Regions from separate parts of the Homo sapiens genome. Here regions 1 and 3 are each linked to region 2. Evidence: fine-mapped expression QTL. A gene starts in region 2. Each other region holds a variant in brackets. All regions are shown on one strand. Distances are from middle to middle. Region 1 overlaps TBL1X (transducin beta like 1 X-linked). Region 2 holds the start of GPR143 (G protein-coupled receptor 143). Region 3 holds the start of SHROOM2 (shroom family member 2).

The links.
Region 1: its variant is fine-mapped to the expression of GPR143 in tibial nerve (GTEx, PIP above 0.99).
Region 3: its variant is fine-mapped to the expression of GPR143 in prefrontal cortex (GTEx, PIP 0.98).

Annotation. Positions count from the first base shown.
Region 1 is chrX:9,711,018-9,719,227 of GRCh38, forward strand. It overlaps TBL1X (transducin beta like 1 X-linked), which reads left to right. Exons shown (of 18, transcript NM_005647.4): 16 at 594-759; 17 at 3,885-3,986; 18 at 5,203-8,210. The coding sequence ends at 5,229. Among named protein-coding and RNA genes, the nearest start is that of GPR143, 51 kb to the right of the region's middle. The variant G/A (reference allele first, on the strand shown) is at 4,297.
Region 2 is chrX:9,762,552-9,770,761 of GRCh38, forward strand. It overlaps GPR143 (G protein-coupled receptor 143), which reads right to left and starts at 3,296. Exons shown (of 9, transcript NM_000273.3): 1 at 3,017-3,296. The coding sequence starts at 3,266. RefSeq lists an enhancer at 2,202-2,703.
Region 3 is chrX:9,783,990-9,792,199 of GRCh38, forward strand. SHROOM2 (shroom family member 2) reads left to right here and starts at 2,440. Exons shown (of 10, transcript NM_001649.4): 1 at 2,440-2,721. The coding sequence starts at 2,557. The variant G/C (reference allele first, on the strand shown) is at 3,838.

The DNA of each region.
Region 1 (8,210 bases), 52 kb before region 2:
AAAAATATTTACCATTTACGTCTATAGGAAACATAGAAACAGGGCTGGGCGCAGTGGCTTACACCTGTAATCCCAACAGTTTGGTAGGGTGAGGCAGGAGGATCTCTTGAGCCCAGAGGTTCAAGACCAGCCTGGGCAACACAGTGAAACCCCGTCTCTACAAAAAATAAAAAAATAAAAATTAGCCGGGTGTGGACCTATGGTTGCAGCTTCTCTGCTGAGGCTGAGGCGGGAGGATCACTTGAGCCCAGGAGTTCGAGGCTGCAGTGAGTCATGATCACGCCACTGCACTCCAGCCTGGGCAACACAGTAAGACCCCATCTCAAAAAAAAAAAAAAAGGTGCAGAAACAAATGTAGATATCAAATTGTTTCCCTAATAAGACCATTAAAGCTTTTTTTCTGTTTAATGACTATGGCTTTGTTTTTAATACTTGTAAGTAGTTACAGTTTAGAAGACAAAAAGCTTTTTAGTTATTATCTTTTGAAACGTAAAAGCTGGGAAAAACAACTCCTGGAGATCTGATACACATTATGGAGAACTGTTTGAAACCACCGTGTGTATGTGATTTTGCTTTCTCTCCCACCTTGCTAGTGCTTCGTTTGATTCTACGGTGCGACTGTGGGACATAGAACGAGGCGTCTGCACCCACACGCTCACGAAGCATCAGGAGCCTGTCTATAGCGTAGCTTTCAGCCCTGATGGGAAGTACTTGGCCAGTGGATCCTTCGACAAGTGCGTCCATATCTGGAATACTCAGGTAAGCTCCCGACCCCTACACCAAATCCTTTTAGTAAGGGATGCCCAAATAGCCACGACTCCAGTGCCCTTGGCTCAGAGCAGTGCCCCGGAGGGAGTTGAGCAAGCTCAGGCTCCCCGGGCAGACCCAGTGGATGCTGTCCACGTGCACCCCACGTGGGCTGTCAGCTCTTCCCCCACCAGACACCTCCGGCAGCTCCCCTCCCTGAGGAAGGGCGTCGTGTCCACCGTAATCATGGCTCTTGGCCATTTGATTCCAAACCCTCACCTTGGCACACGTTCTTCCTTGAAGGAGCCGCTGTCTTCTGTTCACTTTTCTGAGTCCATGGCACGAAACCTTCCACCTGCCTCTTCCTCTTCTTAGCAGTTATCACCGAAGTGCTGCTCTCTAGATACTGAGGTTAGAAGGTGGGAGTGGGGGACCAGCTAACGGGGTCAAGGCCACACCAGCTCCTGCAGCTCCCTTACGGAGCAGACCAGGGAGTGGGAAGGAATGTGCTCTTGCTGTTGTCATGCCACTTCAATTTTTCTTTTCTGTTTTGTTTTGTTGTTGTTGTTTTTTGTTTTTGTTTTTGTTTTTGAGACGGAGTCTCACTCTGTCACCCAGGCTGGAGTGCAGTGGCGCGATCTTGGCTCACTGCAACCTCTGCCTCCCAGATTCAAGCAAGTCTCCTGCCTCAGCCTCCTGAATAGCTGGAATTACAGGCACCCGCCATCATGCCCAGCTTATTTTTGTATTTTTAGTAGAGACAGGGTTTCACATGTTGGCCAGGATGGTCTTGAACTCCTGACCTCAGGTGATCCGCCCACTTTTGCCTCCCAAAGTGCTGGGATTACAGGTGTGAGCCACCGTGCCTAGCCTCAATTTTTCAAATCAAAGTAGGTTCTGTTTGAGGACATAAGGTATGTCAATATTGGGTTGTCCTTTTAGCAGGGATTGAAAGGACATAGGATTTAAATAAAGGTGGCTGCTGTGGGTATCTTGGGCCACACCTGAGGATAGAAGAATTCCAGCTGTAAAGTGTAGAAATGGATGGGAAGTAGCACTGCATAGCATAAAGGATTGTATAGGGCCATCAGCACGTGATTCTAGTCTAAGGGAAGAGAGAGGTGATAATATGCTAGGAGCTGTTGAAAATAAGGAAGGGGTCCCTTTCGCCTCAGGAGGGGAGGAATCACACAGCCTTCCCCCTGCCCCCTTTCATCTGCACTGCCTTCTTGGTTCCTTTTGGCTTGGTTGACATTCAGGTGGATTTATACCCTCAAGTTCATTCCCCCTGTGGACTCAATGGTGATGAGCCCTGTTCACTGGCAAGGGGTCCACTGAGATCACAGGCTTCCCAGGGACCTCATGTGAACCACATCCTCTCAGGGAAGGAAGGGAAATGGTGGACCCTGCGTAGAGCCAACCCGACGCCAAGCCCAGCCCCACAGCCCTAGATAGCTCTCCGGGAAGCACGCATCTCAGCACTAGTGTCCAAGAGTCTCCGTTCCTGAAATCCTCGCTAGAAATAGTAATGGGTGGATTTGTAAAAAGAACACATCAATTATCAAAACAATGACATGATCAGTTAGGTACAGCCTGTTGTCAGGAACTCACTGAACTGTTTCAACCCTTTTTTATAAATCAAAGAAATCCTTAGGACTTTTCTTTTTTTTTTTTTTTTTTGGATCGGAGTTTCACTCTCGTCACCCAGGCTGGAGTACAGTGATGCCATCTCGGCCCACTGCGACCTCTGCCTCCCGGGTTTGAGCGATTCTCCTGCCTCAGCCTCCCGAGTAGCTGGGATTACAGGTGCGCACCACCACAGCCGGCTAACTTTTGTATTTTTAGTACAAACGGGGTCTCACCATGTTGGCCAGGCTGGTGTTGAACTCCTGACCCCAGGCAATCTACCCACCTCGGCCTCCCAAAGTGCTGGGATTACAGGCATGAGCCACCGCGCCCGGCCAAGAAATCCTTAGGAATTTTCTTAAGAGAAATCTTAAAGCCCACTTTAATCTTTCTCCAAGTATAAAAATACTTATCTGTAATACTGCCGACACACACCTTTCTCAGTTCATGGAACACCACCCTTTAAGGGGCCCAATTGAGCAGAGGATTTGGGACAGCCCTCCTGGTCTCGGTGTTCAGATTTCTCCTGCCTGTCACCATAGTGAATCATGAGTGAAGGCTTATTCGACTCTTTCTCTCTTTTTTATTTTTTAAAATTAATTTTTGTAGAGACGAAGTCTCACTGTGTTGCCCAGGCTAGTCTTGAACTCTTGGGCTCAATCCGTCCTCCCGCCTCGGCCTCCCAAAGTGCTGGGATTACAGGGTGAGCCACCTCGCCTGGCCTTATTCAACTCTTTCAAAGGCCTCAACTTCCCCTACCTCTTAGATTTGTCAAGTTAATGCTGTTTTAAACCGGAAACCAATGGTCTGTGGTGTTTTCCATTACATGTATATTATGCATTTCTTCTTTCAAATGTCCAAAAATACGTACATTTTAATGTCATGGCATATTATTACATTTAATCATGAATTACAGTCAATTTAATTGCTACTGGGGTGGGTGTATTCATTATGTTGTATTCATTCAGGTCCTCCAAAGAACAGACACCAGAACAGGATTAGATGGGCGAGAGATTTATTGGGGGAAAGAGCTGTGATGGAAACAGGGAGGAAGGTAGGGGGAAGGGAGAATTCAGACCATAAGGCCAGTCTGACCCTGGGAAGGAGACGGGAAGGGTAGGAAGAGTCAGGGATGGCCCTTACAGGTCTGTAGAAAGTTTTGGTCGTGCTGATGGAGAGTCCATGAGCCACTTACCCACCAGATGAGTCTGAGTCTCAGCAGGTGACTGCCATGGTCTCCCGCCTCCATCAGTCCTCAGCTGGGTGCAGCCTCAGAATCCACGCAAATGTGGCAGATTCCGCAGGCATAAGTAATCAGGTTCACTCCTCGTGGTGGGAAGTCCTAGAGGCACATCTCCATGGCCCCCAGAGTCCTTACTGAAAACCCTTAAATTTCACCATGCTTGAAAATGTTCATGACGAAACGTCAGGGCCGGAGGAGCGCACATTCCACACCTGCATCTGTCGCAGGCGCCCCTTGCGTTGTAAGTGACAGCTGCTTTGCTTTGCAGAGTGGAAATCTTGTCCACAGCTACCGAGGCACTGGCGGCATCTTCGAGGTGTGCTGGAACGCCCGAGGAGACAAAGTGGGTGCCAGCGCGTCCGACGGCTCTGTAAGCAACACCTCTGGTTTGCTGGGGAGTGGGGTGTTGGGGGCAGCTGATGCCTAAGTGAGCTTCCAGGGCGTGTGCAGCATTCGTGTCCTGAAGGGCCTAGCCCAGTGCCAAAGGAAGCTTCTGGGCTGGATCCCATCGGAGTTGGTACCACATCTGGGAATGGCCTTCTCCTTGTCCCTTCCAGAGTGTCCTTCTAGTCAACATTTTCTCAGTCAAATTGGTGGTTCTCAACCAGGGTGATTCTGCACCTCTAAGGACATTAGACAATATCTGGAGCCATTTTAGGTTGTCACTACAGTCATGTGTC[G/A]CTTAATGACGGGAACGTTTTGGGAAATGTGTCATTAGGCACTTTTATCTTTGTCTGAACATCATAGAGTGACTGACACAAACCTAGATGATAATACCTGTCCCACACCGAGGCTGTGTGGTACAGCCTATTGCTCCCAGGCTACAAACCTGGACAGCGGGTGACCATACTGATTCCTGTAGGCAACCAGAACACAATGGTAAGCATTTGTGCGTCCGGATCTATCTAAACATAGAAAAGGTTCAGCAGATATATGGTTATAATCTTACAGGACCACTGCGGTCTGTGCGGTGCGTTGTTGCTGGAAACGTCATTATGTGACGCGTGACTGTGCTTAGATGAGGATGCTGCTAAACCTCCTACTGTGCACAGGGTGGCCACAATTGTCACCCATGCTGTGGCTGAGAAGCCCGGGCCTCTGGTGGCCATCCTGCAGGTCTCCTGGGCCCTCTTCTCTTCCCATGGGGCATCTGGATTTCTTATTTTCCCCTGGACTTGAGGTTGCCCTGACCTCTGGGGCAAGCGGCCGTTCTGGCTGAACGGCCAAGGGTCAGAGTAGTCCCCAAATGTTGTCAGAGGCTGTGTACTTGGGCTCGTATTGTCATCTGCCCCACGATTGCAGGTGTCCCTTCTGGGACCTCTGCCACTCTGTTAATTCCTATCATTACCCTTAACCTGGCCTTTCTGCTCTGTGCTGTTTGCTTCAGTTTGCTCGGTCCGATGTCCAGATGCCAGTCTGTTATGAGAGCTTCTCTGACCCTTCATGACGATGTTCCAATAAACTTTACTGACAAACATCGGTGGAGGGCTAGATTGGGCGTGGGGGCCGTAGCTTGCCGACTTCTCACTCTAAAGGCATCTTTGTATTGTCTCTCAAGATGACAGGTGCTTTATCTTTCCTTCCAGGTGTGTGTTTTGGATCTGCGGAAGTAACCACAAAATATTATCGAAAAAAGAAAAGAATTCTAATGACCAGCCGTGAATGTGTAGGGTTGCAGCTCTATTCTCCAAAACTGTAGGAACTTGACTTGCGTTAGAGTGTACTCTGAAACCAACTCGTCTCTGGCCGCAGGAGTCTATATGTTTTCGTAATCTTCATCAAGAAGTTTTTAAAAGGCAAGCAAAAACAGAAGCAAATCATATCAAACGGGGATAGAATGGTTTCCACTGAGGACATTCAGCCTGGGAAGGAGGAAGTCACCAGCTCGAGGCGTGTGGATTGGTTTCCACCCGGAACAGGCTCTGTGATGGCTGAATGGAAAGAAACGTAAAAAGCTGTGCCAAAAAAAAAGCAAAATGCTGTGATAAACCAAACAGGGAAGGGGGAAAAACCCTCCTCCTTGGGATTTTTTTTTTTTGTTTTCCCTAACAATTTGGACACTACAATTGCTCTCACAAAGGAGGTTCAAAGACCAGTTTGTACCGATGAAACGCGCAACTTTGTAATCCCAACACTTTCTATTTTCTAGAATCTTCTTTGTTCATTGGGTGGTTTTTCAGTCGGCTGGAATTCTATCTTCTGGGGGCCTTCCGTCTGAGATGGAAGCTGTCTTGGGCTTGTTGTCTCTTCCTTCTGTTGCTCCCTGCCCCTCCCCCTGCCTTTCCACTCTGTCTGGTGAGCTCTGCTTTTTCAGTGCACCATCAAGAGATGCAGCCCCGTGGACATGAAGACACAATCTCCCACGGACAGCTTTCCCCCTTCCGCCCTCTCCCACCCTCTCCTCCCCTTGCGCTCGCGCTCGCGCTCGCTTTCTCACTGGCGTGCTCTCTTTCTCTCTCTCTCTCCCTCTGTACCTTTCTCATAGTTGCTTCAGATCTTAGGTCTCAAGGGCACTTTGGCGCGTAGTAAGTGCTTTATGTAAGAAGGCAGGGCAGGGGGGCTTTTTACAGGAGAAAAAAAAATGACTTATAAGAGAAAGAGCCTGGAGTATTTTTGGAAAAAAAAATAATATTTTTATGTTAAAACAATTTTAAAATCTTAAAATGGCCATCAGACATAGAGAGCTTTGTGTGATTCATGTTTTAAAAAGAACCGAAGAAGCCACAGGCAGGGCCTGAGGGAGCCCCTGGCTTTCCCCTCAGCCTCAGGAAAGGTGGTCAGGAAAACTCTGGCTGGACAAGGGTCAGTCTTCGGGGTCAGCAGCGAGATTGCTCTGCAGCCAGTGAGGGAGGTCCCCGCCATGCCGGCTGGAAGAAGAACCTCGCATCTTTTGGTGTGTATGCACCTTGGCAGCCAGCAGGAAAGCAGCGAAGAGCCGCGCGCCCTCTGGCCTCAAGGGAGCATTGGCAGAACCATAAGGTACTGCAGAAGCCGTCGAAACCGACTGCTCGGCTGGATTAGGCGTGTTGGCTACATCTTTCCCACAACCGTATAACGACCGATGGTCATTTCTCCAAGAGCAGGCTTGGCGAGTCCTTGCAGAGCTGACATAGAGGCGCCCGCATGTCACTTAGTCTAACGCTGACAGAAATGAATGCAGAAGGAAGATTTTCAGTCCTGAACGTGAATTATAGAGGTAGAACGTCGCTAATAATTTCTGCCATCTTTATAATTTCTTTGTCTCACAGAAGACTAGGAGAAAGATCTTTTTTAAATAATCTTTTTGCTGTTTTTAAAAAATTAAACAAGGCTTTGTGTTCCTAGAAGAGCTTCATTTCAGTGAATCTGGTGACCTCCATCTGCTTGCTGTCATAACCCGACACGGACTTATTTTTGTCATTAGCAAGGGGGAAAAGGCCAAAGGACAAGGGCCTCTTCTCCCATTGGTTTTCCTGTGGGCAGAAGGGCTGAGGAAGATGGCCCAGCCCGTGGGGGCTGCTGGGTCACCAGCAGTGGGTAGGGTGCAATCTGGTGTGTGTTCCAGCAGTGAGACGGTGTTATTGTGAAGGTGGCATTCATCTGCGGAGCCAAAACCCAGCCATCGGGGAAGGGTCAGGGCTTCTGTGGAACTTGGAACGTGCCAGGACCACCTGCAAAAGCCAGGGTGCGTTGATCATTCTCAGATCATTGATTGGCCTCCACTTGGGTATGTGAATTATTCATGTCCCAGAAGACCAAAAAGTGCTCTGGTTCTGAGATGAGTATTTTATTCGTGTTCTGTTTCCGAAACACTTAGCAAAGAAGGTCACAGTGATGTGGAGTCGCCGCACCCATCTTTGAAGATAGCCAGTGTCCCTGGATGAGGTGATGATTTCCCGTCCCAAGGACTCTGTGAAGTTTAGAGTACAGTTTGTTGGGGTCCAAAAGACACCATCTCTACCCCACCCAAATAAAAATGCACTCATCTCTGTAGAACATCTGCTGTCAAAGGCCAGCCTGTCGTTAGGGCATGGCTTATGCTTGACAAACCAGTAACAACTGTGGGATGGCGATGGTGGGATGTGTCGCAAGCAATTCACTAGACAATCTTCACATGAATGTCGGTAGCCAGGGTCTCTCCCGAGGGATGGCTTTAGTCTTGATGAATGTGAACCATGTCGGAATTGTTAGGTAGAAACCTGGGCTGGGAGGCCTCGGACCCCAGGCTCCATCCCTGGCTTCCCCAGCCTGCGGCCGCAAGCAAAACCAAGCGCGAGATGCAGCTAGCACCCTTCATATCCATCCCCGTTCTCAGCGGGACAACACCATGGACAGCCGTTTTCAGAGCCTCCAGCATTTGCACACCACTACTCACCCTCTCTGCTGCTGGCATGTTGGTAGAGTCATCCCTGTAATCAAGAAATGGCCTGTGGAATGTTATTGTTCAACGTTGTTTACAGCTCTTAAAACATGGTGAGGAATGCCTAAGTCTTAGTGACCAAACGTGACCTTGAAAGCAGACATAGCATGACAGACCTTCCTAGAGTGTTTGGTCGGGTTCACAGTGACCGAGAGTCAGGTCCAGCACACACCTGGGAAAGGGATGCTGCCCCAA
Region 2 (8,210 bases):
ATGCGATACACCACTAAACAAATGCTACGTAATATACTACTAAACACATACCATGTAATATACCACTAAACACACACTATGTAATACACTACTAAACGACAACTGTGAACACTAAAAAGCTCAAGACATCTTCTCATTATCAAGCCACTGCCAACAAAAACAATGCCTTTCTTCTGTACGGTGCCTTAGAATTTTCAGCATTTATCACTCCTTTGAGCTTAATAAAAGCCCTATCCCATGGGCATTGAAATTTCTTATTTTTCAGTAAGGGGTCCCGATCACCCAGCCTTTTCCTGACTTCTGCTTATTTGCTCGCAACCTCATCCACTTCCCTTCTAAAGGCTAAAGGATATGCAAGTATTATTCACTAACCCTCAAAAGATGTTTGGGTACACCTTACTTTTTTAGAGACAGGGTCTTGGCTGTCACCCAGGCTGGATCGTAGCTCACTCTAGCCTGGAATTCCTGGGCTCAAATGGTCCTCCTGCCTCAGCCTGGTGAGTAGCTGGGACCACATGTGCATCCCACCATGACGGGCCTTTTTTTTGTTGTTTTTTTTTTCTTGGGGGTAGAGCCTGGGTCTCGTTACGTTGCCCAGGCTAGTCTTGAACTCCTGGGTTCAAGCAATCCGTCCACCACAGCCTCCTGAGTAGTTAGGATTACAGGCGTGAGCCACCGCACCTTTAGGAGGCCGAAGTAGGAGGATCGCTTGAGCCTAGAAGTTTGACCAGCCTGGGCAAGATGGTGAGACTCCAGCTCTGAAAAAATAATGCAAAAATTAGCCAGTGTGGTGATGCATGCCTGTAGTTCCAGCTGCTCAGGAGGCTGAGGTAGGAGGATCCCTTGAGCCTAGAAGTTCGAGGCTGCAGTGAGCTATGATCATGCCAGCACACTCCAACCTGGGCAACAGAGTGAGACCCTGTCTCAAAAATAAAGTGATAATGATATTGGGGTTGCAAATGTTTAGAATTATTATGTTTTAGGGCTCTCTCTGAGATCTGAATGGGCAGGATGATGGAGCCTGAGATTGGCTTCACATTAATCCAGTGAGGAGGGTGAAGAGGGGAGCAGATGAGCCGGGTACCCGTACCTCACGAATCCCACGTACAGGGATTCACTGTAAGTGTTTCTATTATAGACTGCATTTACGCATGGTGGAAATGTTCCAAAAAGCTAAACAGAATGGCCAAATCTAGCTGAGAGGTCTGTATAAAGTGTCACATAATAGTTTAAAGCAGATGTTGGCAAACTCATTCTTAATATTTTTGGCTTTGGGAGCCATACTTTCTCAGTCCAATATTCACCCTGCCCTTGTAGGGTAAAGGCAGCCATGAATAATTCACAAATGCACATGAACAACATAGCTGCGTTCCCATCAAACTTTATTTGTAGACATTAACATTTAAATTTCAGTAATAGTCACATGCCAGGAAATATTTTTTAATTTTGATTTTTAAAAACATTTTAGGGCTGGGTGAGGTGGCTCACGCCTGTAATCCTAACACTTTACGATGCCAAGGGTGGTGATCTTTTAATTAAGCCCAGGAGTTGGAGACCAGCCTGGGCAACATAGTGAGACCCCACATATATTTACCCTAGCATGGTGGCGTGTGGCTGTAGTCCCAGCTACTCGGGTAGCTGAGGTGGGAGGATCGCTTGAACCCAGGAGGTCGAGGCTGCAGTGAGCTGTGATTGTGACACTGCACTCAACCTGGGCAAGAGGGTGAGACCCTGTCTCAAAAAACAAAATCATTAATTTTTTAAAAAGTAGGATGTAAAACCATTCTTAGCTCGTGGACCCTAGAAAACGGGCAGGATTTGGTCTGAGGGCTGCAGTTTGCGCACCTGTGGTGTAAAAACCATACCCAAAAAGCCTGGATAGGGAAGGGATTTCAGCTTACAAAATACTCGAGAGAATATATAGTGCACAATAGAAAAGAATTTACACACGCGCACACACACACACACACACACACACACACACACACACACAGAGCGAGACAGAGAGAAGTTAATTGTTAGTCTCTCCCTGGTGCAGTTGGGCAAAAATGAGGAAATCTTTTCTGGTCTGGGTTTTGCTTAACTGCGCCATCTGAAGTTTCCATATAACAAACACAATAAACGGATTTTTTAAAACCCAACGTCCCTTGGATGGGAATTTTACCGACCATGTGTTTGCAAAACTACCTAGTCGGCCGGGCGCGGTGGCTTACGCCTGTAATCCCAGCACTTTGGGAGGCCGAGGCGGGTGGATTACCTGAGGTCAGGAGTTCGAGAGCAGCCTGGCCAACATGGTGAAACTCCGTCTCTACTAAAAATACAAAAATTAGTCGGGCATGGTGGCGCGCGCCTCCCCCAGCTACTCGGGAGGCTGAGGCAAGAGAATCCCTTGAACCCGGGAGGTGGAGGTTGCAGTGAGCCGAGATTGCGCCACTGCACTTCAGTCTGGGCGACAGAGCAAGACTCCGTCTCAAAAAAAAAAAAAAAAATTACCTAGTTGTCCCATCCGGTCCCTAGGGAACAGCCTCCGCTTTCTCTTTTCTCTGTGGTTCAAGTGTTAAGACGGCCAGCCCAACCCGCTAGCCGTGCGCCATCACCCGGGCACCGATCAAGTTCCAACCCGAGTGGATCGAGTTCCAACCTGCGGGCCATGCGCCCTCACCCGGGCATCGATCCGGTCTCAACCTGCGGGCCACGCACTCTCACCCGGGGATTGAGCAGGTCCCAACCCCAGGGCCTCACGCCCTCACCCCAGCACTGAGCAGGTCCCAACCCGCGGGCCTCAAGCCCTCAGCCGGGGACCGAGCAGGTCCCAACCAGCCAGCTACGCGCCCTCAGCCCTGCACCGGGCAGGTTCCAACCCGCGGGCCTCTCGTCCTCACTCCATCACGGAACAGGTCCAAATCCACAGGCCGTGCGCCCTTATCCGGGCACCAGTCGGGTCTCAACCTGCGGGCCACGCGCCCTCACCCAGGCGCTGATCAGATTCCAACCCGCGGGCCGCGCGCGCCCTTACCCAGGCAGCCGAGAAGGTCGCAGGCAGCGGCAGCGCGCAGGATGCGGACCGAGGCCGGCGGGGACGTCGCGGGGGACCCGGGGCCCGCGGGCCGGCGGCCGGGCAGCAGCTGCAGAAGGCCCAGCGCCAAGCGGAGCCCGCCGCTGCCCAGGCAGAGCGCGTGGAAGGCCCGCGGCTGGAAGCTCAGCACGAGCTGCGTGGCTGCGTCCCGCGTGGGGCAGCAGAAGGTCCCTAGGCGCGGGGAGGCCATGGGCTGTGTTCGCGGACGCGGCTCGGGTGTGCCAGGACCCCGCCGGCCTGCCTGGGTCATGTGCTGGGCGGGCTGGGGGCGGCATCATGTGCCCTGGGCCTCTCCCCCACCCCAACCCCCAGCGCCTGCAGTAGAGCCAGGCTCGGTGGGGGCCGAGAGCACTGGGCTAACGCCACGAGGCCTCACGAGGTGATGCTTGGGCGGGCGGAGGAGGAGGACAGAGAGAGGGAGGGCTGAGAGGAGAGGAAGAGGGAGGAGGAGGAGGGAAGTGGAAGGAGAAGCAGAAAGGTTGGGAAGGTTACCTTTCTCCCCATTCACCAAGCCTTCCTGGTGGTTTCTCTGCCACCTAGAGCGCCAAACCTGCCATCTTTACTGGTCTTCTAGAGAAACAGGCCTCGTGGACTAGATCTTTCCTATTTGGGACTCTGACATCCTGATTTTGATGCCTTTAAGGCGCCAGAACATGTTCATAAACTGTGACTGATCCCTGTAACTGCTTTTTTCCTAAGTAGAGATGGTTGTCCAATTAGTGCTTTTTTTTATGGCCTCTCTCATTCATGGATATAATCCCACAGAGGCAGGATTTTCGTTTACAATTAATGAATGAAACAAACAGATCAATGTTAAAGAAAGAGCAGTAGCTCACACCTGTAATCCCAGCACCTTGGGAGGCCGAGGCAGGCAGATCGCTTGAGCTCAAGAGTTGGAGACCAGCGTGGGCAACATGGCGAAACCCCACCTCTATTAAAAATACAAACATTAGCCCGGTGTGGTGGCCCAGGCCTGTGATCCAAGCTACTCGGCAGGCTGAGGTGGGAGGATCGCTTGAGCCCAGGAGGTGGAGTTTGCAGTGAGCCAAGATAGTGCCACTGCACTCCAGCCTGAGCGATAGAGCCAGACCTTGTATCAAAAAACGAAACAAAACAAAAATTAGCTGGATGTGGTGGGGCGTGCTTGTAGCCCTAGCTTCTGGGGAGGCTGAGGTGGGAGGATCACTTGAGCCCGGCAAGTGGAGGTTGCAGTGAGCAGAGATTACACCACTGCACTCCAGCCTGAGCAATGGAGTGAGACCCTATCTCTCTCTCTCACACACACACACACACACACACACACACACACACACACACACAGAATTAAGTTTAAAATTTAAAAACATTAAAAAAATAAAGGGAAAAGTACTCAGCATAAGTACACACAGACACATTTTGCACCTTAACTTTCAGTTCTATTTATTTGGATTTTTCTTAACTGCGTTAATTTTTCTATGTTTTCTCATACATTGAAAATCTTGCTTTATTCTATACATGTAAGTTTCCAAGTAATATTGTGTTAATGATTACAGTAAGCATACTAAGATTTTTTTTTTTAAGTTCTTCAAGGCTGAAAATAGAAGTGCTCCTTCTAGATTATGGCCTTTATTTTAAAAAAAGAAAAGAAAAAAAAATCCAGCTCCATCATATTTATCATCTTCAACAAACCTCATTGGCTCTTTGTGACCACACAAGAGACACCCTTCCTCCTCTCTCCTGGTAAAATGGGCCCCTCTCTGGGTTTTTTTCAAGCAACCAAGGTGCAGGTGTCCCCATTGTGTTCATGGACTTTCCTCACTTGTTCTCCCCACCAGCTTTGCGGTTTTAAGGAAGGCATGATCTGTGCCGTCTTCCTCTAGGGATAGCAGGACTGGCCTTCCCTTGGGACCCCACAGAAGGCAGGCGGGAGGCTCCACTGCCAGACAGGAAGCGGAGCCTTATTTAACAACAATGAGGTGCAAACTCCACCACTTCAAAAGAGTCCAGATCTGGCACGTCTATAAACGCAGCCTGTTCACTCCACAGCTGCCTTCCTAGAAGTCAGAACAGACTGACATCTTCAGAAAGCTTAACAGCTCTGCTGGATTACACACTCCATTGTAAAAACAGTCAGAAGCACCATAGAACTACTCCCCAAGCATTAATGTTTAAAAGCTTGAATTCTAATATCTAATTTGGACAGTGGCTCTCTTTCCTTCTGCCTTGGTAAGCAGAGTTGCTTCTGGAGGTTAGTGTAATGGAAAGTGCTTTAAAAGATAAAAATGAAGAGTGTCTGTACATTTGCCTGAAGGTTGAGGGCCAGTGGGCCAGGCAAAGGGGTCCCTGCATTTGAGTCACTGTTTCATGCCCCAGAAAACACACTCCGCCTCTCTGCTTCCTACGTGATAACCTGGGAGTACTCTCCAGGGGGCTCTGGCTGACTCTGGTGCCCACTACTCAAGCTCAGTAGTCAGAATCTCATCAGTGAGAAAATGGATATGAATGCAGATTCCTAGGGCCATGGCACAGATGACAATGGTAAAGATGAGCCTCAGAGTAAAGGTGCAGAAGCATGAGTGTAAGACTAAATTTAAAACCCTGTCATCAAAGTGAGAGGGAACTAGAAATTGGTATGAGAGGCTGGGCCCAGTGGCTCACACCTGTAATCTCAGCACTTAAGGAGGCTGAGGCAGGAGGATTACTTGAGCCCAAGAGTTTGAGACCATCCTGGGCAACATAGTGAGAGCCCATCTCTAGCGTCTTCCTCTAGGAGCAGCATCTTTTGAAGTGGTGGAGTTTGCAGCTCATTGTTGTTAAATAAGGCTCTGCTTCCTGTCTGGCAGTGGAGCCTCCTGCCTGCCTTCTGTGGGGTCCCAAGGGAAGGCCAGTCCTGCTGTCCCTAGAGGAAGACGACACATCTCAAATTAGCAGAGCGTGCTGCTGCGCACCTGTAGTTGCAGCTACTGGGGAGGATGAGGTGGGAGGATCACTTGAGCCCAGGAGTTTGAGGTTGCAGTGAGCTGTGATTGCACCACCAAACTCCAGCTTGGGTGAACTGAGATGACAAACTTTTTTTTTTTTTTTCCTTTGAGACAGAGTCTTGCTCCATTGCCCAGGCTGGAGTGCAGTGGCGTGATCTCAGCTCACTGCAATCTCTGCCTCCTGGGTTCAAGTGATTCTCATGCCTCAGCCTCCTGAGCAGCTGGGACCACAGGCACATGCCATCACACTCAGCTAATTTTTTGTCTTTTTAGTAGAGATAGGTTTCGTCATGTTGGCCAGGCTGGTCTTGAACTCCTGGCCTCAAGTGATCCACCCGCTTTGGCCTCTCAAAGTGCTGGGATTACAGGCATGAGCCATCATGCCTGGCCTGACAAAACTTTTCATGAAACAGTACAACTACAAATCTGAGAAAAGTGAAGCAAATACACACGCACACACTTGGGAGGCAGAAACATCTGGAAGTTTCGTAGATATGGGAGATACAGGGATGGCGGTGCTGAATATGAACTTTGAGGTATGTGTGCAGAAACAATCGGTCTTTGAGTACATGAAGGTACATCTGTTTTTGCATGAACCCTTCCTCCGTTTTTCCCTCCTTCCCAGTTTAGCACCTGAATTCGCTCTCCATTTTCACAGTTTGGGCTGCCTGGGGCATCTGTTCCCTGGAAATGCTCCATCATCTTGGCTTTCTCTCATTCCACAATCCACCATTTACCCACCATTCCCACTTGATCAGATGCACTTGATCAACTGCTGGAAGACGGTTCCTGAGTTTCTCTCCCAGGCAGTTTATTTTTCATGGTGAGTCCCCTGACATCGAGATGTCTCAACCAAAAGAATGGGGTTTATGGTGAGACTCAGATATCCCTTAGAATCCAGTAGAGGAGGTGGCTAGGGGCAGATGGATGGCAGAAACAGCCTAAGTAAGGAGACTGCCATTCACAATAATTTGAATTTAAATAATAAATAAGATTTGTTTATTTATTTATTGACATGGAGTCTCACTATATCATCCAGGCTGGAGTGCAGTGGTGCGATCTCAGCTCACTGCAACCTCTGCCTCCCGGGTTCAAGTGATTCTCCTGCCTCAGGCTCCCAAGTAGCTGGGATTACAGGCGCCTGCCACCACACCTGGCTATTTTTTGTATTTAGAGTACAGACGGCGTTTTGCCAAGTTGTCCAGGCTGGTCTCGAACTCCTGACCTCAGGTGATCCGCCCGCCTCAGCCTCCCAAAGTGCGGGGATTGCAGGCGTGAGTCACTGCGCCCAGCCTAATAAATAAGATTTAAATAATAAAATAATTTATGGAGTGTAGGCAGGCACTATGCTTTGAATATTACATTCATTATCTCATTTAATATTCAGAATGAGCCTTCCAAGTGGGTTTTACTGATACTTAAATTGATATAGACAAAACATGGCCAGGTGCAGTGGCTTATGTCTGTAATCCCAGTACTTTGGGAGGCCAAGGTGGGAGCATTGTTTGAGCCCAGGAGTTCAAGACCAGCCTGGGGCAACATAGGGAGACCCTGTCCCCCACCTCCCCCAGTCAAAAAAAAAAAAAAAAAAAAAAAAAAAAAAGCCGGGCTCAGTGGCTCACACCTGTAATCCTAGCACTTTGGGAGGCTGAGGCGGGCAGATCACCTGAGGTCAGGAGTTCACTACACTCCAGCCTGGGCGACAGAGCAAGAACAGGAGAAAGAAAGAAAGAAAAAGAGAGAGAGAGAGAGAGAGAGAGAGAGAGAGAGGAAGACCAGCCAATACATAAGTCCATGGGTATGGCTGTGTGCCAATAAAACTTTATTTACAAAACAGGCAAAGGGCCATAGGCTGCAGTTCCTGTAAGTCTACCACCTGAGGCTCTGGCTTATCTAGCAGCTGCTTGAAAGGCTGGGCAACAACCGAGAAATGGAGGAGGATTAACACTTAGTGGGGCAGACAAACTTATTCCAATGAGAGAGGAAGCAGGAAGTCACTGGCAGATGTATTGCTCACCCTTCCTTCCTAGGGAGGTTTCTGAGGAGTGGTTTCATATGTTCCTGTGTAACCAGCTGGGTTTCTTGGGAATCTTGTGGCCAGTTCATGAATGGCACTGCTCTTAATTTGCTTTCTTCCTTCCTTGCCTCACCCTGCTTTTGTGCTCACTCCTAGA
Region 3 (8,210 bases), 21 kb after region 2:
TGCTGGATTTATGGAGACAATGAAATCACTGTCTCTGCTTTATAATGAGTCTAGTGGTCTGAATTTTAGCCCCAGGTAAGAGCTTAGACTGAAGTCTATACCAGCTTGGGGTGGGGAGGTAGGGAGTGGGCTGTTTTGGGAGACGGACATGTCTGCAAACTCTAATAAGCACACTGGGTATATTTATACAGCTCTTTATCTTTTGGTTTATCATATCCATCCATTTCTTAAACTTTGTGAGATAACTGGATTTACATGTAGTTGTAATGTGTCCAGAGTTGGTTCCTTCCGGTGGGTTCTTGGTCTTGCTGACTTCAAGAATGAAGCTGCAGACCTTTGCTGTGAGTGTTACAGCTCTTAAAGGTGGCACAGACTCAAAGAGTGCGCAGCAGCAAGATTTACTGTGAAGAGCGAAAGAACAAAGCTTCCACAGCATGGAAGGGGACTGGACCGGGTTGCCACTGCTAGCTGCAGTGGCCAGCTTTTATTCCCTTATTTGACCCCACCCACATCCCGCTGATTGGTCCATTTACAGAGTGCTAATTGGTCCATTTTACAAACCTCTAGCTAGCCACAGAGCGCTGATTGGTGCATTTTACAATCCTCTTGTAAGACAGAAAAATTCTCGGAGTCCCCACCCAACTGGCTTCGCCTCTTGGTAAGGAATAATACAGGGAAGTCCTGTGCACCCTTCACTCTTCACCTGCCTGTTCCAATGGCAACACGTTACAAAACTACAGCACAATGTCACAACCTGGAATATGGACATTGATACAATCCACCAAGCCTTTTCAGATTTCCCGTTTCACGTGCATTTAGTTCTGTGCAATTTAGCTTAATCAACTTGGCAGCTCCTGTGACCATCACCACAGTGAAGATACACTCGACTTGATTCTGAGAGGCACATTCCTTAAGCCTTCGTTTAATCTTTGAAAAAGAAAAAATCGCCTCATTCTTCTAACTAAAGGCATTCAGAGACTGTAGTTAGAAGTTAATTATGGGGCAGTCACCACGTGCCCAGCGCCATGACAGGTGCCCAGTGGAGCTGCGACTCTGAATTTAATCGGCTGCATGAGACACCTCCACAGAATGCACCCCTCTCACTTGACCTCTGAAGAAACAGACCAGAGCTGAGATTTCTTGTCCCAGCTTGACAGTGGCAGAACCCAGACCCGGGGACCCTTGACTCTCTGTCCAGTGCTCTCCCGGCCTGTCCTGGATGCGTACTCCAGCATCGTCACCTCTGAAAAGGGCCTGGATGGAGCTGCTTAGAGAAAAGAGGTGTTCACCAGCCTTCAGCTACGTATAGAAACAGCAACGAAAACAGCTTTTTTGCAAAGCATGTAAATACCTATCCATGCAGGTACTTTAGACCAGAGTTTCATGGAAACTGAAACCGAGCAGGAAGAGGTGGCACACATGTTGTCCGCAAACTTTCACCAATCCCAGACCTCCACCTCCCCTTTTCGGGGATGTAAACCTGGGAAACTTGAAGACCTTGTGGTCCAATCCTAGGCGAGTGGGGACAGCATCTAGACGCAACGGCTTTCTGCGCGGTGGCTGTGGGAGGCCTCTGCGGGAAGGTGGGAAGGCCCTCGTGGAAACGGGGCACGGTCCTTCTGCGCCCGCCTTCCAAGCCCCTCCAGAGGCCGGACCCGCGCCCGGCTCAGGCTGCTGGGGGGCGCCCTTCCCGGCTCTCTAAGTCCAGAGTGTGAGTGCGCGCAGGGCCGCGCGGGACGGGCGGTCCCTCTGCCCCGGGGCAGCGGCCACAGCGCGGGCACCAGGGCCTCCCGCGGCGCTTCCGCTCTCACCTGCGCGGCAGCCCGCGGTGCGCGAGAACAAAGTGTGGGCGCCGGCGGGCCGCGCGCCCCGAGACGGAGGAGGCCGGAGACTCCCGCCACGCCACCCCGCGCCCATCTCACCTGCCGCCTCACCTGCCCGGTCCTGGCCTCCAACCGGCGGGCGGGGGCGCCCAGAGCTTCGAAGCACTGCAGAGCTCTGGCGCGGGAGGAAAGGCCCGACCTGGCGCCGGGGCCTCCGCCCCCGTCCTCGCCCGCGCTGGCTCCGCCAGCCCCGGGGCGCGCGCTCCTCGACCCCGACCCCGAACCCGCTGAACGGCGCGCGCGCCTGAGCGCCCCTCCCGGCCCGCTCCCCTCCACCGGGCGAGAGAACCGGGGCGCGCCCCTCTCCAGCTCTCCCCGGTACGAGCGGCCGCGTGGGCCCCTGAGCGCGCACCTGACCCCGTCCCTCACCCTTCGGGCCGCGGGCTGGACCTCTGGACGCGCTCCCCGTGACCGGCCCCGCGGTACGAGCTCCCGAACGCGCCCGCCCCGCCCCCCGTCGGCCCCGCCCCCTCCCCGCCAGCCCCGGCCCCGGCCCCGGCCCCGGCCCCGCCCCCTCCCCGCCAGCCCTCCGGGCTCCCTCCGCCGCCGGGCCGGCACTTTCTTTCCAAGTTACGGCGCAAGTTCTGCGGCGCTCGGAGCCTCCCTTGCGATCCCACGGCCGGGACTGCCCGGAGTGCATGGGCGCGGGCCAGGGACGCTGAGCGGTCGCGCCATGGAGGGCGCCGAGCCCCGCGCGCGGCCCGAGCGCCTGGCCGAGGCCGAGACGCGGGCGGCGGACGGCGGGCGCCTGGTGGAGGTGCAGCTGAGCGGCGGCGCCCCGTGGGGCTTCACCCTGAAGGGCGGCCGCGAGCACGGCGAGCCGCTGGTCATCACCAAGGTAAGGCGGCCGCGGGGCGCGGGCGCTGACAGCCGGGAGCTGGCCGCCCTGCGGGGCGCGTCGAGGTAGGGGCGCGGGAGGGGCGGTAGGCTCGCGCCCCCGGGTCTGGCGCGCGCGTCTGCTGGGGTCACCTGCCGGGCCTGGGCGCCGGGACCGGCGTGGGCGTGTGATCCTGGCGGTTCCCCGCGCCTCGCAGAGTTTAAATGGCTCCTGCCCGGAGTCCCTTTCCCCTCCCCCTCCCTCCTCCGGGCAGGGGCCTGGCCGGGTCCTCTGGCGCTCCCGGGCCCGCCAGTGGCGGCCTGCACCTGCGGGGCTGCCTGGAGGCCAGCGAAGGAACGTGTCCCCGAGCCGTCCCCACCTATGTTTGCCTCTCTGGGGTCCCTGGTTCGGCACCCCTTGGACCCGTGCCTGTGATCACTACGAAATCCAGAGTAGCAGCTGTCGCCAGCGCAACTTCTCGATTCCCTTCAGCCCATCAATGTTTACTGACTTTCGGCTTCCAGTCCCAGATCCACTGCGCACTGGATACCTGCGCAAACTTAGAGAAACCTGAAAGCCTGCTTCCTAAGAGCAGGACCCGAGTTCTAATAATAATAAAGAAATTCCAGATGTATCTCATCAGGAATGTTGTGTGTGTGTGTGTGGTTTGCTTTAGAACATTGAATTTTATTGTCTCAAAACAAAATCCATCTGGAAACTTACCAGTTGAACCTGTATGAACTTGTAAAAGCAAACACATAAACAACAGTCCAGTCACCCTGTGTTCTAGTTAAAAGTGTGTAGTGGTCATTTTCTCTGGGAAGGGTTGAGTCGGACCTTTCGTGTGGACGAAGTTCCTTTTAAAATGTAAAGATTCTTGGCGACTAGAAGCGTTTGAAGATAATTTACTGGTTTTCTCGGCTTTCCTGCCTCTCCACAGCAGGAAGAAATTAAGTGATTCCTAACCCGCCGCACTGGTAATCAGTTTGGGAAGTGGGATGGCTTTGTTGTTCAAATAGCAAATGAGACACCAGCGTCTTCCATTCTATATTTTCTGTCGCTTTTATGATTACAAAACTTTGTGGAGGGATTTGGAGAAGCCTTGTTTAGCTTTGCACTAAATTTTTGTTGAACTCA[G/C]GAAAGAGGTTGCCATTGTTATAAATTTGACCAATGTGTAATCTTTTATCACACTGGCTTCTTTGGAAACATGGTGGACAGTCATAAAGTGTGTATACTCTGCCCAGCCAGAACACTCCTCTTTTTTTTTTCTTTTATTTCTTTTCTTTTCTTTCTTTCTTTCTTCTTTTTTTTTTTTGAGACAGGGTCTTGTTCTGTCAGCCTCCTGAGTAGCTGGGACCACAGATGTGCGCCACCATGCCTGGTTAATTTTTTAAAATTTTTTGTAGAAACGGGGAGTTTCACCATTTTGCCCAGGCTGGTCTCGAACTCCTCTGCCTCCCAAAGTCCTGGCATTACAGGCATGAGCCACTGCGCTTGGCTCAGAATGTGGATTAATCCAAGCTTTGAATCTTCCTCTCCCAAAAGCTACTGAAAAGTCACTGGGGCTCATTAAAAAATAGCTCTTCTAATCGTTTTTTTTTTTCCACTTGTAATTAAATAGTTACATATTAGAGCCCTGGAATACTGTACAACTCACTTGCTATTTAGCAGACTCTGATTTGGGGATAGCTTGCATTAAGGTAAGAGCGCACCTTCTCTTTATGATAATGAGGGTATCATTTGAAAGCCTCATGGGAGTGCGTGTAGTAGAACTGGGAGGGGTGTCAAGAACAAGGCTGGTTCGGTCCTGGTCTTCAGATGGAATTTTATCAGCCCATTTTATAGATGAAACAGCTGTGGCCCAGGCAGGGCAAATGGTGTATCCTGAGGTCACAAACTGTTGAGTCCTGGGAAAGGCCCTAAGAATCAGACTCTGGCCCCAGTGTTCAAGCCTGCTGCTCCCCTTCAGTCAGTGCCATCTGCTTGGGTCTGGGATCTCCTGCAATGCCATATTGAATACCTTCGTCACATCGGTTAGGTGAGGGTTTGCCAGCCTTGGCATTGGGGACTTTGTGAGCTGAATCTCTTTGCTGTGGGGCTGCCCTGTGCTTTGGAGGATGCTCAGCAGCCTCCCCAGCCTCTACCTGCTTGATGCTACTGTCACCTCTCTCCAGGTGTGATGACAAAAATGTCTCCAGACATTGCCAAATGTCCTCTGGGGGCAAAATTAGCCTGGTTTTGAATCTCTTTTGTTAGATTAACCATATATCACCTTTGCTCTTAAAGGATTCTTGCTCTTAAAACTTCTGTTTCTTTTTGAATAGACTGGCCTTTAGGGTGGTGTGTTTAGAGGCCTCTGGCATTGCCAGTGTTTGCATGGAGAGCTGTTTTCCTCCCACGCGTTGGCCCTGAGAATAGGCTTTATTTACATAGTCAAACTCAAACAAATACTTGCTTCATCTGCATTTTTTGTAGCTGGAGAAAGGAAATTGAAGCAGGAACTCCCAAGTGCTGTGTTTTATGGGCATCCACAGTGGCTGTTCAGAATCAGGACTGACTACTCTCTGGGTCTAGTTTGAAGCTAAAGGGATACCAACTTCAGAGGAGTAGCATTCTTGGAATTTGGGGTGCATGCATGAAGCCCAGCAGAACCTCCGCTGACAGATGGCGACAGGATTCATCACTCCTCAGTACGTTTCTGCTGATTTCTGCCTTGAAATTTTGCTACAGTTGGTGGAAAAAATGCACTCAAACCCATATTTCCATGCTGTTGTTAGAGAGGGGGCAGGAATAACATCCATGCTGTAGGAATCTATGTAACGGAAGTAGAGATGGTGGATATATGTGATCCTGGTGGGTTTTTTGCATGTTTCTGTTCCCATCCATTCAACCAGTGGAAGTCTTCAGTGGGGGGAGGGGAGGGGACTGATTTCTAAAATGTCACTAGAGTGGCTTGAATTCCACAAAGCTGTTTGGGGGATTCATGAGGAAGCGTTAAATACACCAGCTGGGTGTCAGCAGCCCCCTGTGGCCTCAGGAATGTTTGTTAAGGGAGGGAAGGAATGAAGCCCCAGCCTCTCCTGTTCACTATTTCTTAGAGTCCGCTCCCTCCCCCAAAAAGAATGCCAGAAGCCTTAGCCCGAAGCTCCAAAGAAGACAGTAACTTGGGCCTGGCCTAGCCCCAAGGGCAGCTCCTTTGGGAACCCATTGATTTTCGGGTTGCCATTGGGCACCAGAGCTGTTGTGTGCGACAAGACTGCTGTGGTCTGGGACGCTTGGAGGTCCCCCCCACCTGACTCACCCACCCCAGGGCTTCAGACTCTGAGAACATTTCTCTGGATTGGAGACAGAGCTTTGAAATGTCCTTTCCAGTGTGAATGCCAAAGACGGAATCAGGGCATATTTTGGGGGGCGTGCAGCCAGGTGGCAAGTGTCTTATGTAAAGTGTTAGCTGAGTCCTTGATTGCAGAGGGCACAGGGCTGAGACTGGTGGTTGGTGATGGGCAGGAGTGGAGGCCCCGCGCCTCTGATGTACCTTACTTATTGGTTTGGAAAGGGGGCTCTGCATTATGGGCCATGCCAAGTCACCTCGTGACCCGAGGACCGGGGAGATCAGAGTGACCACCCTGGTCGGGATCAGTTCTTGTCTCATATGCCATTATATTGGCTCCCAAGAGCCAACCAAGCTCTTTGTGAAATATCAGTAAAGGTTTTGAAAAAGAGGGACCTGATGAATTCAGCAGTGGGTCAGGAGCGGGTGACTCTCAACTTTGTGGCTGCTGGTGGATTTTTGTGCCCAGATGCAGTGTGCGGTCAACATCTGCACGAGGGAGTGCTGCTGCTTCTCCAGGTGTCTGAGAACCAGTGGGTGAGGGCTTGGATCTCCCTTGCCTCTGCCATCTCTAAGTGATGTCCGAGTTGTAAAGCTTTACTCACTTTTTGATGCCAGCTACCATGTTTTCTTCAGCTATTAGGATAAGTGTCATTATAAAGATCCATCTGTATTTAAGAATTAATAGTAAGGTTAAAAACCAAGAGGTGAGCTTTCTTTCCTGTGCTGAAAGACCCTTTCAGTTGGTAGGCCCGCCTTGCCAACTGGCTTTCAAGTCTATCTTTATTACCTTTTCCCAGCCTGTGAATTAATGTGACCCTGCTGAATTCTCATCCTTGTTCTCCGGCGATGTTTTGGGCAAGAGTGTGGAGTCAGGCAGTGAGCCTCAAGTCCTATTCCAGGGTCTGGGAGCTGGAGGCTTTGAGGGTCAGCTCTGGGAGGATTCTTCCTCTCTTAGACATTAACTCAGCTTGACTCACGCCTATGAATCCAGAGCCTTCTGCGATTATGAGAAGCTGTAAACATAAGCTATGCATCTCACTTCTGTACCAGGATGCGTTCGGTCTTCATGGCTCAGTTATGAGTATTTCTTAACATGTCGTAACATTTATCTTTTGAAAAAAAAAAAGAAAAGAAAACTAGTTTGCCCAAGAGCTAAAGGTAGAATAGTATGATAATGAAAGGCTCAGAACAAGTAGCAGTTTTCACCTTGTCCTAATGAGCTGGGGGTTTCTTAATCTACCTTTGTAATTCATGGTCAAAAAAACTGGCTTGCCACTTGGGAAGGGCTGGTTTTTCTCTTTGGAAAGCATTTTGGAGTTGTTTGTCCCCTTGCCAGAGTTGTTTTGTATCAGCATGCAAATAAACCTGGATTTGTGGCCAAGTTCTTAAGGGCAGTGGAGAAAAGCTGGGGCTCTGTGGAACTTTTCTTCTTGCACACCGGGTGCAGCGGAAACATTCTACACGATAATGTTAGAATGTAAAAGCTGAATGGACTTTTTATTCAGGTCTTCTTTTACTTTCAAGCACTGTAGTCAGCAGTGGGGCAATTCATGAAGGATAAATTCTGCAGGTTTCTGCAAGCCCTCTTCCTACACATGCAAGCCGAAAACTTTAACCCACATGAAGGATTTTGAAAGAGTTCTGGGTTGCCTGTTGCTCTTTTAGGCCTTTAAAAAAATATCACCAGTGCCAGGCACGGTGGCTCACGCCTGTAATCCCAGCACTTTGGGAGGCCGAGGCGAGTGAATCACCTGAGGTCGGGAGTTCAGGACCAGCCTGACCAACATGGAGAAACCCTGTCTCTACTAAAAATACAAAAAAATTAGCCGGGTGTGGTGGTGCATGCCTGTAATTCCAGCTACTCGGGAGGCTCCCGGGAGGCAGAGGTTGTGGTGAGCTGGAGATCGTGCCATTGCCCTGGGCAACAGGAGCAAAACTCCATCTCGAGAATAGAATAGAATAGAATAGAATAGAATAGAATAGAATAGAATAGAATAGAATAGAATAGAATAGAATAGAATAGAATAGAATAGAATAGAATAGAATAGAATAGAATAGAATAGAATAGAATAGAATAGAATAGAATAGAATAGAATAGAATAGAATAGAATAGAATAGAATAGAATAGAATAGAATAATCACCAGTATCTGATACAGGGAGGGTGTATTCTGGAGG